Homo sapiens: one gene and its partners. The protein of the gene in region 1 purifies or fractionates together with the protein of each later gene. This does not show direct contact. Each region holds a gene or a part of one and is shown in the gene's direction. Other genes may lie near its edges.

What was found.
Region 2: the proteins of RAB40B (region 1) and LMO7 purify together in Homo sapiens (affinity purification with mass spectrometry, with the first as the bait; one study listed by BioGRID). This does not show direct contact.
Region 3: the proteins of RAB40B (region 1) and DIAPH1 purify together in Homo sapiens (affinity purification with mass spectrometry, with the first as the bait; one study listed by BioGRID). This does not show direct contact.

Annotation. Positions count from the first base shown.
Region 1 is NC_000017.11:82,692,035-82,695,761, reverse strand, and holds part of RAB40B (ras-related protein Rab-40B), read left to right. Parts: intron 1-3,727. UniProt on the Homo sapiens protein: RAB40B small GTPase acts as substrate-recognition components of the ECS(RAB40B) E3 ubiquitin ligase complex which mediates the ubiquitination of target proteins.
Region 2 is NC_000013.11:75,807,330-75,810,829, forward strand, and holds part of LMO7 (LIM domain only protein 7), read left to right. Parts: intron 1-150; coding exon 151-870; intron 871-1,824; coding exon 1,825-1,854; intron 1,855-3,500.
Region 3 is NC_000005.10:141,573,955-141,577,681, reverse strand, and holds part of DIAPH1 (protein diaphanous homolog 1), read left to right. Parts: intron 1-90; coding exon 91-207; intron 208-810; coding exon 811-926; intron 927-1,387; coding exon 1,388-1,452; intron 1,453-2,535; coding exon 2,536-2,715; intron 2,716-3,473; coding exon 3,474-3,727. UniProt on the Homo sapiens protein: Actin nucleation and elongation factor required for the assembly of F-actin structures, such as actin cables and stress fibers. Binds to the barbed end of the actin filament and slows down actin polymerization and depolymerization.

The DNA of each region.
Region 1 (3,727 bases):
CTGAAAAATAGTAAGAAGTTGAGATCATTATGTTTTGTTTTTTATTTTTTCAGAGACAGGGTCTTCTCTGCCGCCCAGGCTGGAGTGCAGTGGTGTGATTGCAGATCACTGCAGCCTTGACCCTCCTGGGTTCAAGCCATCCTCCTTTTTTGGCCTCCTCAAATGCTGAGATTATAGGCCTGAGCCACAGCACCTGGCCATGTTTTTTTTTTTTTTTAATGACATGTTTCGCTGAGAAACACTATAGGTGCTTGTTATTGAAAGGTGAGGGCAGCCGGGCGCAGTGGCTCACAGCTGTAATCCCAGCACTTGGGGAGGCCAAGGTGGGCGGGTCATGAGGTCAGGAGTTTGAGACCAGCCTGGTCAACATGGTGAAACCCTATCTCTACTAAAAATACAAAAATTAGCTGGGCGTGGTGCCGCGTGCCTGTAATCCCAGCTACTTGGGAGGCTGAGGCAGGAGAATCGCTGGAACCCAGGAGGTGGAGGGTGAAGTGAGCTGAGATCACACCATTGCACTCCAGCCCAGCGACAGAGTGAGATTTTGTCTCGAAAAAAAAAAAAGAAAGAAAGAAAGAAAGAAAGATGAGGGCGTTCGTAACTCCACACTCCATTTCCCTCCACCCAATTCCTCCTGAGTTTTGTAGCCCAGGCTGTTATTTTTATATTGTCCAGGTTTATAGCCCTTGCTTCTGTATTGTGGCTGTAGTGCCCGCAATGATTTAGTATCAATTCAACATTTAAATACAGTCAGTGCTCACCAAAGTCCTTTTACCATTTATGTCTCTGTTCATTGTGCTGTCCCTCTTAATCACCTAGATTTCATTATCAGTCGTTTTTTCAGAAGGACTCGAGTATTTCCTGAGTGTTTTTTTGTGTCTGAGAATGTCTGCCCATGGTCTTTATCTTTGAACAATGTAGAGATATCTTGGCTGGGTATAATACTCTTAGATTTATTTTCTTCCCCAACACTTTGCAGCTGTCATTCCACCATCCCCTGGCTCACATGTGCTGTGGGGAAGCCTGAGGTCAGCTGATTTTTCCCCATGTGGAGGCTTGTCCTTCCCTTCATGAATTTCTGAGGAATTCTTTCTTTTTGTCTCATAGTTCTTCTGCTTAACCAGACCATGTCTCAGAGTTGAATGTTTGTGTTAAACTTTTAGTATGAACGTACTCTTTGAGTTTCCAGGTGTGTGTGTGTATGTGTGTGTGTATGTATTTTTTTTTTCTTAGATGTAGTCTCAATCTGTTGCCCAGGTTGGAGTGCAGTGGTGTGATCTCACCTCACTGCAACCTCCACCTCCCAGGTTCAAGTGATTCGCCTGCTTCAACCTCCCAGGTAGCTGGGATTACAGGTGCCTGCCACCACACTGGGCCAATTTGTTTTTGTATTTTTAGTAGAGACGGGGTTTCCATGTTGGCCAGGGTGGTCTCGAACCCCTAACCTCAGGTGATCTGCTTAGCTCAGCCTCCCAAAGTGCTGGGATTACAGGTGTGAGCCACAGTGCGCGGCCTGAATTTTTCTGATTATCTTATGCCTTTCCTATTTGTTGGTAATTTTGATTTCAGTAAACTGTTCTAGCTGTTTCTAACTTATTGATTAGTTCAGTAAAGATGTTATTTTTGTCTCCTAATTTTCTCTTAGTTTTGGAGTTTTCCTTTTTTTTTTTTTTTTTTTTGAGATGGAGTCTCGCTCTGTTGCCCAGGCTGGAGTGCAGTGGCACGATCTCAGCTCACTGCAACCTCTGCCTCCCAGGTTCAAGCGATTTTCCTGTCTCAGCCTCCTGAGTAGCTGGGACTACAGGTGTGCGCCACCACGCCTGGCTAATTTTTGTATTTTTAGTAGAGACGGGGTTTCACTTTGTTAGCCAGGATGGTCTGGAACTCCGGGCCTAAGGTGATCTGCCCGCCTCGGCCTCCCAAAGTGCTGGAATTACAGGCGTGAGCCACTGCGCCTGGCCAATGTGCACTTCTGTGACTGTGTCTCTGGCCCCCGTTATGTGAAAGAGACTCTCCCATGTTGTGTGAGGCTGTGGGGTGTTAATTCTCATGGTGGTGACATCCCTTTTGTGACTCTACCGTGATTTATTCTCCATCCTGCGGGTGACGGGCATTTGGGTGGTTTCAGGTTTCTGACTATTATGGTTTGTTCTGCCATGAACATTCCTAGTACACATCCTTTGCATTTCTGTTGAAAGGTCCCTATGCGTGTGAATCGCTGGGTATCAGGCACGCAAATGTCTGCACAGGTTTCCCTGTAGTAGATTCTCGCAAAGCATTTTTCACTTGGTGCTCCCACCAGCAAAGCTGGAGGCCCCGGCTGCATCATCTTCCCTCTCAGCACGGGGCTGTCTCTGTCCTTCTGTGGTGTGTAGTTTGCCTTTGCATTTCTCTGATGACTGAGCACCTTTTCATACGTCTATGCGAAATTCCTCTTTGGAAAAATGCCCAAGTCGGCCGGGCCTGGTGGCTCACGTCTGCAATCCCAGCACTTTCAGAGGCCGAGGCGGATGGATCACCAGAGGTCAAGAGTTCGAGACCAGCCTGGCTAACTTGGTGAAACCCCATCTCTACTAAAAATACAAAAAAAAATTAGCCAGGTGTGGTGGCGGGCACCTGTATTCCCAGCTACTCGGGAGACTGAGGCAGGAGAAGCACTTGAACCCGGGAGGCGGAGGTTGCAGTGAGCTGAGATCGCACCACTGCACACCAGCCTGGGCAACAGAGTGGGACTCTGTCTCCAAAAAAAAAGAAAAAAAATAGAAACAGAAAGAAGAAAAATGCCCAAGTCTTATGTCTGTTTTTTCATTTAGGTTGAATTTCTTTCAATGCTTGCTAGGAGTGTTTAAAATATAGATTCTGGCTGTGAGTCCTTTGTCGGCTGTGTGATCCTGGATAGCCACTCTCATCTGCACGTCACCTTTCCACTCCTTCAGTGGTATTTTTGGATGAACAGAAGCTCTTAATTTTAACATAATCCAAATTATCAGTGTTTTGTGGTTAGGACTTTGGGTCCTGTTGAACAAACCTTTGCTGCTCCCAGATTTAAAAAAAAAATGTTCTCTACAAGCATCGTTTTACCTTTGACATGAATGGCTGCCTCCAGCTGGGGTGAGGCCTGAGGCAGGGATCGAGACACACTTTTTTCAGTCGGATGCCCCCCACCCCCACCCCGCATCGCACGGCCACCGTTGTCCCAGCTGAGAGCCCGCCTGTGGGTCTGGGTCTGCACCGTTGGCCCGCCTGTCTCTTGTGTGTGTGCCCCGGGTCAGACTCTGTCTTCTGTGGATGGGCATGCCCTGTGCTGGCCAGGGCAGTCAGATGCATCTTGTCCTTGCTCAGGCAGCTGTGCCCAGGTGTTCCCTTTGCTCCGATACGGTCAGCGAGGCCTGGATTCTCCCTCCTGGGCGTTTGTCTTCCTCTCGGTCTGTAGTTGCAGGGCAGAGTTCTTGGATCTTGGACCCTGTCGGCAACTTGACTCCACAGACTATGTGGACCCCACTGCTCTGCCTGTCACCTCAGCCCACGGACCGTGCGGGCCCCACTGCTCTGCCTGTCACCTCAGCCCACGGACCGTGCGGGCCCCACTGCTCTGCCTGTCACCTCAGCCCACGGACCGTGCGGGCCCCACTGCTCTGCCTGTCACCTCAGCCCACGGACCGTGCGGGCCCCACTGCTCTGCCTGTCACCTCAGCCCACGGACCGTGCGGGCCCCACTGCTCTGCCT
Region 2 (3,500 bases), on another chromosome or scaffold:
CAAGAGTCCCCACAATGGTCCTCTAAAATGATTTACCCTCAGTAACTGGCTAGTTGGTCTGCTAATCACCTTTGGCTAGTCGATCTGCTAATTACCTTTTCTCCCTAAGCTTAATAAGATTCTCTTTCCTTTTTCCTCTCTGTGCATCAGTCAGTTTTTACTGCTTCAGGCCCTCCAAACATACTCTGATGACATCTTGTCTTCTGAAACACATACCAAAATTGATCCCACTTCTGGCCCAAGGCTCATAACCCGCAGGAAGAATCTCTCTTATGCACCAGGCTATAGAAGAGATGACCTCGAGATGGCAGCCCTGGATCCTGACTTAGAGAATGATGATTTCTTTGTCAGAAAGACTGGGGCTTTCCATGCAAATCCATATGTTCTCCGAGCTTTTGAAGACTTTAGAAAGTTCTCTGAGCAAGATGATTCTGTAGAGCGAGATATAATTTTACAGTGTAGAGAAGGTGAACTTGTACTTCCGGATTTGGAAAAAGATGATATGATTGTTCGCCGAATTCCAGCACAGAAGAAAGAAGTGCCGCTGTCTGGGGCCCCAGATAGATACCACCCAGTCCCTTTTCCCGAACCCTGGACTCTTCCTCCAGAAATTCAAGCAAAATTTCTCTGTGTACTTGAAAGGACATGCCCATCCAAAGAAAAAAGTAATAGCTGTAGAATATTAGTTCCTTCATATCGGCAGAAGAAAGATGACATGCTGACACGTAAGATTCAGTCCTGGAAACTGGGAACTACCGTGCCTCCCATCAGTTTCACCCCTGGCCCCTGCAGTGAGGCTGACTTGAAGAGATGGGAGGCCATCCGGGAGGCCAGCAGACTTAGGCACAAGAAAAGGCTGATGGTGGAGAGGTCAGAGTGTGTTTCTGCAAGGATTTTGCTTGTAATGGATGGTCTTGTGTAACTTTTCTCATGCGAGAAAGCAGCTCATCGTGTTGCTCAACTCTGCATGTCGCGTGCCATTTTGAAGCATCCCGTAAAATTTAATTTGCTTTGAAAAACCCTCAGTCGTTTTGTACAAAAAGTGCAATTCCATATTTGCATATCTCTAAATAACTTATTTAGGCCTGTTTAAGACTGTATATACATAAACCTTGCCTTTGACTTAAGCAGTACTGTGGTACTATCCACCAATATGAAGTTTCTGGACTTCTCATGTTCAGGCATTTTTGTAACAGTCTGGTTATAGTTTGGTTTTATGTGTTGCTCACATTTTAGAGTGTCTGATTTTTTTGGGGGGGTGAAATTTTCCCTTAAAATATGGCATTGCAAATTTCATTTAACTTAATTTTTGGTTTTGGCCTAGGTTTCTTGGACTATCATTTGTAACTTATTTTTATTTATGAAGTTCAGAGTAAACGTTGATGTTAAAATGCATGAATGGTATTTGTTGTCTGCTGAATTTTATGTGTATGTAATCATGGCCATTTTGATAGTTTGTATTATGCAACTTGCCTTTTTGATGAATGTTCAGTTTGTGGAACTTAGAGATGGACAAATCTGATTAGGTTGAATAAAATTAGAGGATCCAAATCTAACTTAACAGTTCCTGACAATGGGAAGCCTTTTCATATGGATTTGTTAGCTCAGAGTAAATTGAGGAAATTCTTCATTTTGCTTAATCTGAATTTCCTGAGATAGGAAATTGATGAGAACTTGAGACATGATCAAGAATGTGATGGAAGAAGTGACCTTTTGAGATTTGTCCGTCTCCAGTTAGATTCTTAAGTGGAAGACATTGAACGTTTAGAAACTAATATGACTGGGAAAAATGACTTTTTAATTTTTGGTTTTCTGGTTTCTTAGACTCTTTCAAAAGATTTATGGTGAGAATGGGTAAGTTGTGTGGTTCACAGTAAAAAATCTGTGCGTGTTGTTTGTTCTTTGTATAACTTACTGTATTTCTGGCATGGCATGTCACTAAATGGGGTTGTTGTGTGCTGTGCATGATATTTTTTAAGTGGGAAATGTTTATCTTGCAACCTAATGGTAATATTTCTGTGTCTTGGTGCCCAGTGCAAGATAAAATTATTTGTTTTATTAAAAATTTAAACTTCAGCTTCATCCCTTCTTTTTTCCTTTTTAAAAATTTAATGAGTTGATTAAAAGTCACAAAAGCACTTGCCTAAGATTAGGTATATGTATTTTGGTATTTGGTTGCTACATAGACTAAAATTCTGATTTATGGATGCTAAAGCCCAAATTACTACATTTTAGAAAATCTGTGATGGAAAAAGAATATTAGCATTTACTTCAAGTTTAGAATACACCCAGTTGACATTATCCTATAATCGGCCAACTGGGAGCTTCGTTAGTAGGGATGCATTAAACTTCCCTAGGTGGTATTTGGAAGTATTATATTTTCAAGATTCCTGATTAGGAAAAAAAAGTTATAACATGGCTATATTTATAGTGCAAAATAGACCTTCAAAAACTGCAAAAATATTTTTAATTTCTAATATCACTGTTGCAAAAACTACATTTTTTTTTTTTTTTTTTTTTGAGATGGAGTCTCGCTCTGTCGCCCAGGCTGGAGTGAAGTGGCGCAATCTTGGCTCACAGCAACTTCCACCTCCCAGGTTCAAGCAATTCTCCTGTCTCAGCCTCCTGAGTAGCTGGGACTACAGTTGCATGCCACCACACTCTGCTAATTTTTGTATTTTTAGTAGAGACGGGGTTTCACCAGATTGGTCCGGCTGGTCTCAAACTCCTGACCTCAGGTGGTCCATCCACCTCAGCCTCCCAAAGTGCTGGGATTACAGGCAAAAACTACATTTACAGTAAATCATTTATTCATTCTTAGTACAAAATCACAAGGTGGCTATATCTTAATATTTTCCACCAAACTTTCTGTAACTTTGTGAATCTAAGGGCTAATAGTGTTTGAGCAAGAGGAAGAGAGTTAAAGGATGACAGATGTTTTAATCTGCTCAAGCCTCAGTAGCTAAGTATCTTCCCTTATGAGGATTTACTTCATCTATAAGAATCTCTAGTTTTGATAGCTTTTTATAACTTTGATAATTCAGAAATGTTGGAAGCTACTAAATGTAAAGCAGTATAACCATTCTAGATGCCAAAGGTGTAACTGAGCCACAGGCAACAAATTGCAAGTACTTGTTAGCCACTGATTTTAAAAACCAGGGTCCCTGCATGCTTTCCGTGTGCCATGCAAAGGCACATTATCCGCTTTCCAGCTCATCTGCATGATGCTTAAACATTTGCTACTCTCAAGTCATAGGAAAGCTGTTTTAACTTGATTAAAAATCTCTTTGCAGCTTTAAGCATGTTGAATTGTAACTTTCAGAAAAATTTTCATTTGTAAATTAAATATAACTTTATAATGTAAGCAGCTCTCAGAAATAGTTGCTTTTCTTAAAGGAAATAAAAGTACCCAGAGTACAAGTATGTGGTGGAAATGTCAACATGTACAACCATTTCAGTGGCTGGATGTGTTCCCTGTAGTGAGGGGTAAATTATATGAC
Region 3 (3,727 bases), on another chromosome or scaffold:
TTTTCCCTAGCTTTTTCAAGAGTTAAATAAGCCACCTGTCAAACATAATTTCTGCATATTTGCTTTCCTTAGCCTATTTCCCTTTTCCACTGACTTTAATGAAGTCTTTCAGATTCTCTTAAACACAGTGAAGGATTCAAAGGCAGAGCCACACTTCCTTTCCATCCTGCAGCACTTACTCTTGGTCCGAAATGACTATGAGGCCAGGTAAGATGCTGTGCTTATGAGAAGTTTTGAATTTGAGCCTAAGTGGAGAGAGTGAATTCCTTAAATTCAAAGATTGTTCTGTAAAAGGAAAATGTAAAGACAAAGACCCAAGATTAGGGTTCATTAGTCACCGATATAAAGGAAGTTGTCTTATTTCTTTAATCCAACTCAAAGGCATCCCTATGGCAGAGGTCAGAGTGTATAAGGTGAAATGCCGTTCTGTTTTTGGAGGGGAGTAGGTAAATAGGATGAAGATGTTAGCAAACAGAAGTGGCAATTTAAAATTCTTTCTAGTTTCCTGGAAGTATAGATTTAGCAATAGCACTATCCATCACAGGAAGGATCAAACGCAAATTTTTAGATGGGAAAGTATTGGCACTAGGAGCGGATGGCAAGAAGTTTTGATTATTTGAAGTAGATAGGGTAGGGTAGCTGATGTGGAAAAAGGAGTTTTCTTAGCATGGCAGCAATACTTGTGTTAACTTTACAAAAGTTTTTCCAGGTCTCTCAGTTGTCAGAGCAATTACGTTTTCTTGGTCCTGAATACTTCTGAAAATTATATTTTGATTTTCCTTTGATGACCCTGTTTTTATTCTCTTGTAGACCTCAGTACTATAAGTTGATTGAAGAATGTATTTCCCAGATAGTTCTGCACAAGAACGGGGCTGATCCTGACTTCAAGTGCCGGCACCTCCAGATTGAGATTGAGGGATTAATTGGTAAGCATACTCTTCTATCTGGCTCCTCCAAGTATTGCTTCTTCCTTTCATTTTGCATCTTGTTTCAGTGAAAATGTCAGAGAAGATACCTTTCCAGTCCCCAGATAGTTCTATTTTTGTCCTTTCTTAGGTCATAACCAGCATCTTTGCTAGGAATCTATAGGTCTTTAGTTTATTTTTAGATAAAACACACACCAGCACCTTTTGCAGGAACTCCTGGTGGTCTCAGAGAGTCAAAAATATCACTCATAGGCATTCTTCTTGCCACCCAGCATGGTGGCCTTACCGCACACTCAGATTACATGTTGAACTTAACTGAAAGTTCCATTTCTTTGTCTAGTGCAGAACATTAAGAAAGATAATAAAAATGATCAAAAAGACTGTTCTTTGGAAGGGTGTAGTGTGAAAGAAATAGAACAAGAGAATTAGGAGCTTTACTTACTGACTCTTCTTCTTTTCAGATCAAATGATTGATAAGACAAAGGTGGAGAAATCTGAAGCCAAAGCTGCAGAGCTGGAAAAGAAGGTGCATATGAGAGACCAAAGACATGTGTTTGAGTATATCTTTCTTTGAGAATTATTATTTTCCTGATCTATGAGACAGTTTTCCTCTGTGGTATTTTGGAAGCGTTTAGCACCCAATAGTGTAGTTCCCAGGGGAAACCTTTCCAGTATAGGGTAGTCATTGGAGAAAGTGATATGGATGTCTTCATAGGGAGCTCTAGTGGTGGACTTTCAGTTCTTGGGCTACTGGGCAGGAAAAGAAAGACAGATGATACTCATGTAATAGTAATGGCACTCTCAGGTTTGCTTGGCATTTTAGGCCTCTTACCCCTAGAACAATAGGAACTGGGGTCCTTAGAGCAATAGAACTAGAGGATGTCTGAGTTCTCTTTTTCTCTTCAGTTTTTAAGAACGTTTATTGTGGTTAATAGGTTTTTGATCCTAGAGAATATTGGGATTGTACTACCATGGTCGTCCTCGTTAAATACCTTTAAAATCTTATTTTTTTTAACTATAAAAATAGGGAATCTGTGGAAATGAACTGATTCCCCTCTCCTTTAACCTTGTTTTATTTTCATTTTTATTTTTATTTGTTTTTTTTTTGAGACGGAGTCTCACTCTGTCATCCAGGCTGGAGTGCAGTGGCGCGATCTCGGCTCACTGCAACCTCTGTCTCCTGGGTTCAAGCAGTTCTCCTGCCTCAGCCTCCCAAGTAGCTGGGATTACAGGTGCCCACCACCATGCCCGGCTAATTTTTGTATTTTTGGTAGAGGCTAGGGTTCACCATGTTGGACAGGTTGGTCTCGAACTTCTGACCTCAGGTGATCCACCTGCCTCGGCCTCCCGAAGTGCTGGGATTACAGGTGTGAGCCACTCCGCCCAGCCAAACCTTGATTTTAAGGTCAGAATCATGGTGCTTTTTTCCCCCGAGCATGGCCTGGATTTATGAGCTCTGTAAATCAAGTACTGGCCCAGAACAGGAGGCAGTGGGGGGATTCCAGCACCCCCAGGCAAAAGAGGAGGTAGGGAGAATTATGGGTAATAATACTTGTGCTTCTTACTGAGATGGAGAGCTTGCTGGGAGCCTGATTCGTTTTTTCTCTAGTTGGACTCAGAGTTAACAGCCCGACATGAGCTACAGGTGGAAATGAAAAAGATGGAAAGTGACTTTGAGCAGAAGCTTCAAGATCTTCAGGGAGAAAAAGATGCACTGCATTCTGAAAAGCAGCAAATTGCCACAGAGAAACAGGACCTGGAAGCAGAGGTGTCCCAGCTCACAGGAGAGGTAATGCCTGAGCAGGGAAGGCAGAATGACCTGTAACCTCAGGATGCACATGGCTTGGAACAGGAGTCAGTCATCTCGCTCCTAGGGAGGGTTCAGCTACTAATAGGTAATCTAGTTACATGGTGCATATTTTAAAAATAATATACTGGTTTTTGGTTTGTGTTGGGGGTAAGTAATACATAAGACAGAAAATCTGGAAAATACAGAAAAACATTAAGAATAAAGTAAGTTTCATTACCACCCAGAAATAAAAGTAATAAGTCTCCTAATAAATTAGGAATAAAAACTAAACTGTTAAAAATTGACTAATTTCCTGTTATTTTAGTCACCTCTGCACAGATTTATCCTTACACACTCTCTCTGCAGTAGTAAATACTTAAATGATCTTTGATGTCTGATAACTTGATTACTTATGTGGTTATATAATCATCTGTGTAGCACATATATTAGTTATATAACTAGAACATTTAATTTACTTGACCTTTACATTTTCTAATCAAGGGAGGGTTTAACATAAAGGTTGAAATTGTCTTCTTAATACAAAGCATGCTGAACTAAGAACATGAAAACCTGAATTCTAGTTTTGGCTCTGCTGCCAAGCCGTGTGACTTTAGGTGATCATGTCATCTCTCTGACTCCTCTCAGTTCCTCCATTTGTAACATGAGAAGTTTGGATTAAGTAGTTTATTAGGTTCCTTCCAGTCCCAGTAGTCCCTGAAGTGGGGTGAGAAGTACTCACATTGATGTTATTTCTGTAGGTTGCCAAGCTGACAAAGGAACTGGAAGATGCCAAGAAAGAAATGGCTTCCCTCTCTGCGGCAGCTATTACTGTACCTCCTTCTGTTCCTAGTCGTGCTCCTGTTCCCCCTGCCCCTCCTTTACCTGGTGACTCTGGCACTATTATTCCACCACCACCTGCTCCTGGGGATAGTACCACTCCTCCTCCTCCTCCTCCTCCTCCTCCTCCTCCACCTCCTTTGCCTGGGGGTGTTTGCATCTCCTCACCCCCTTC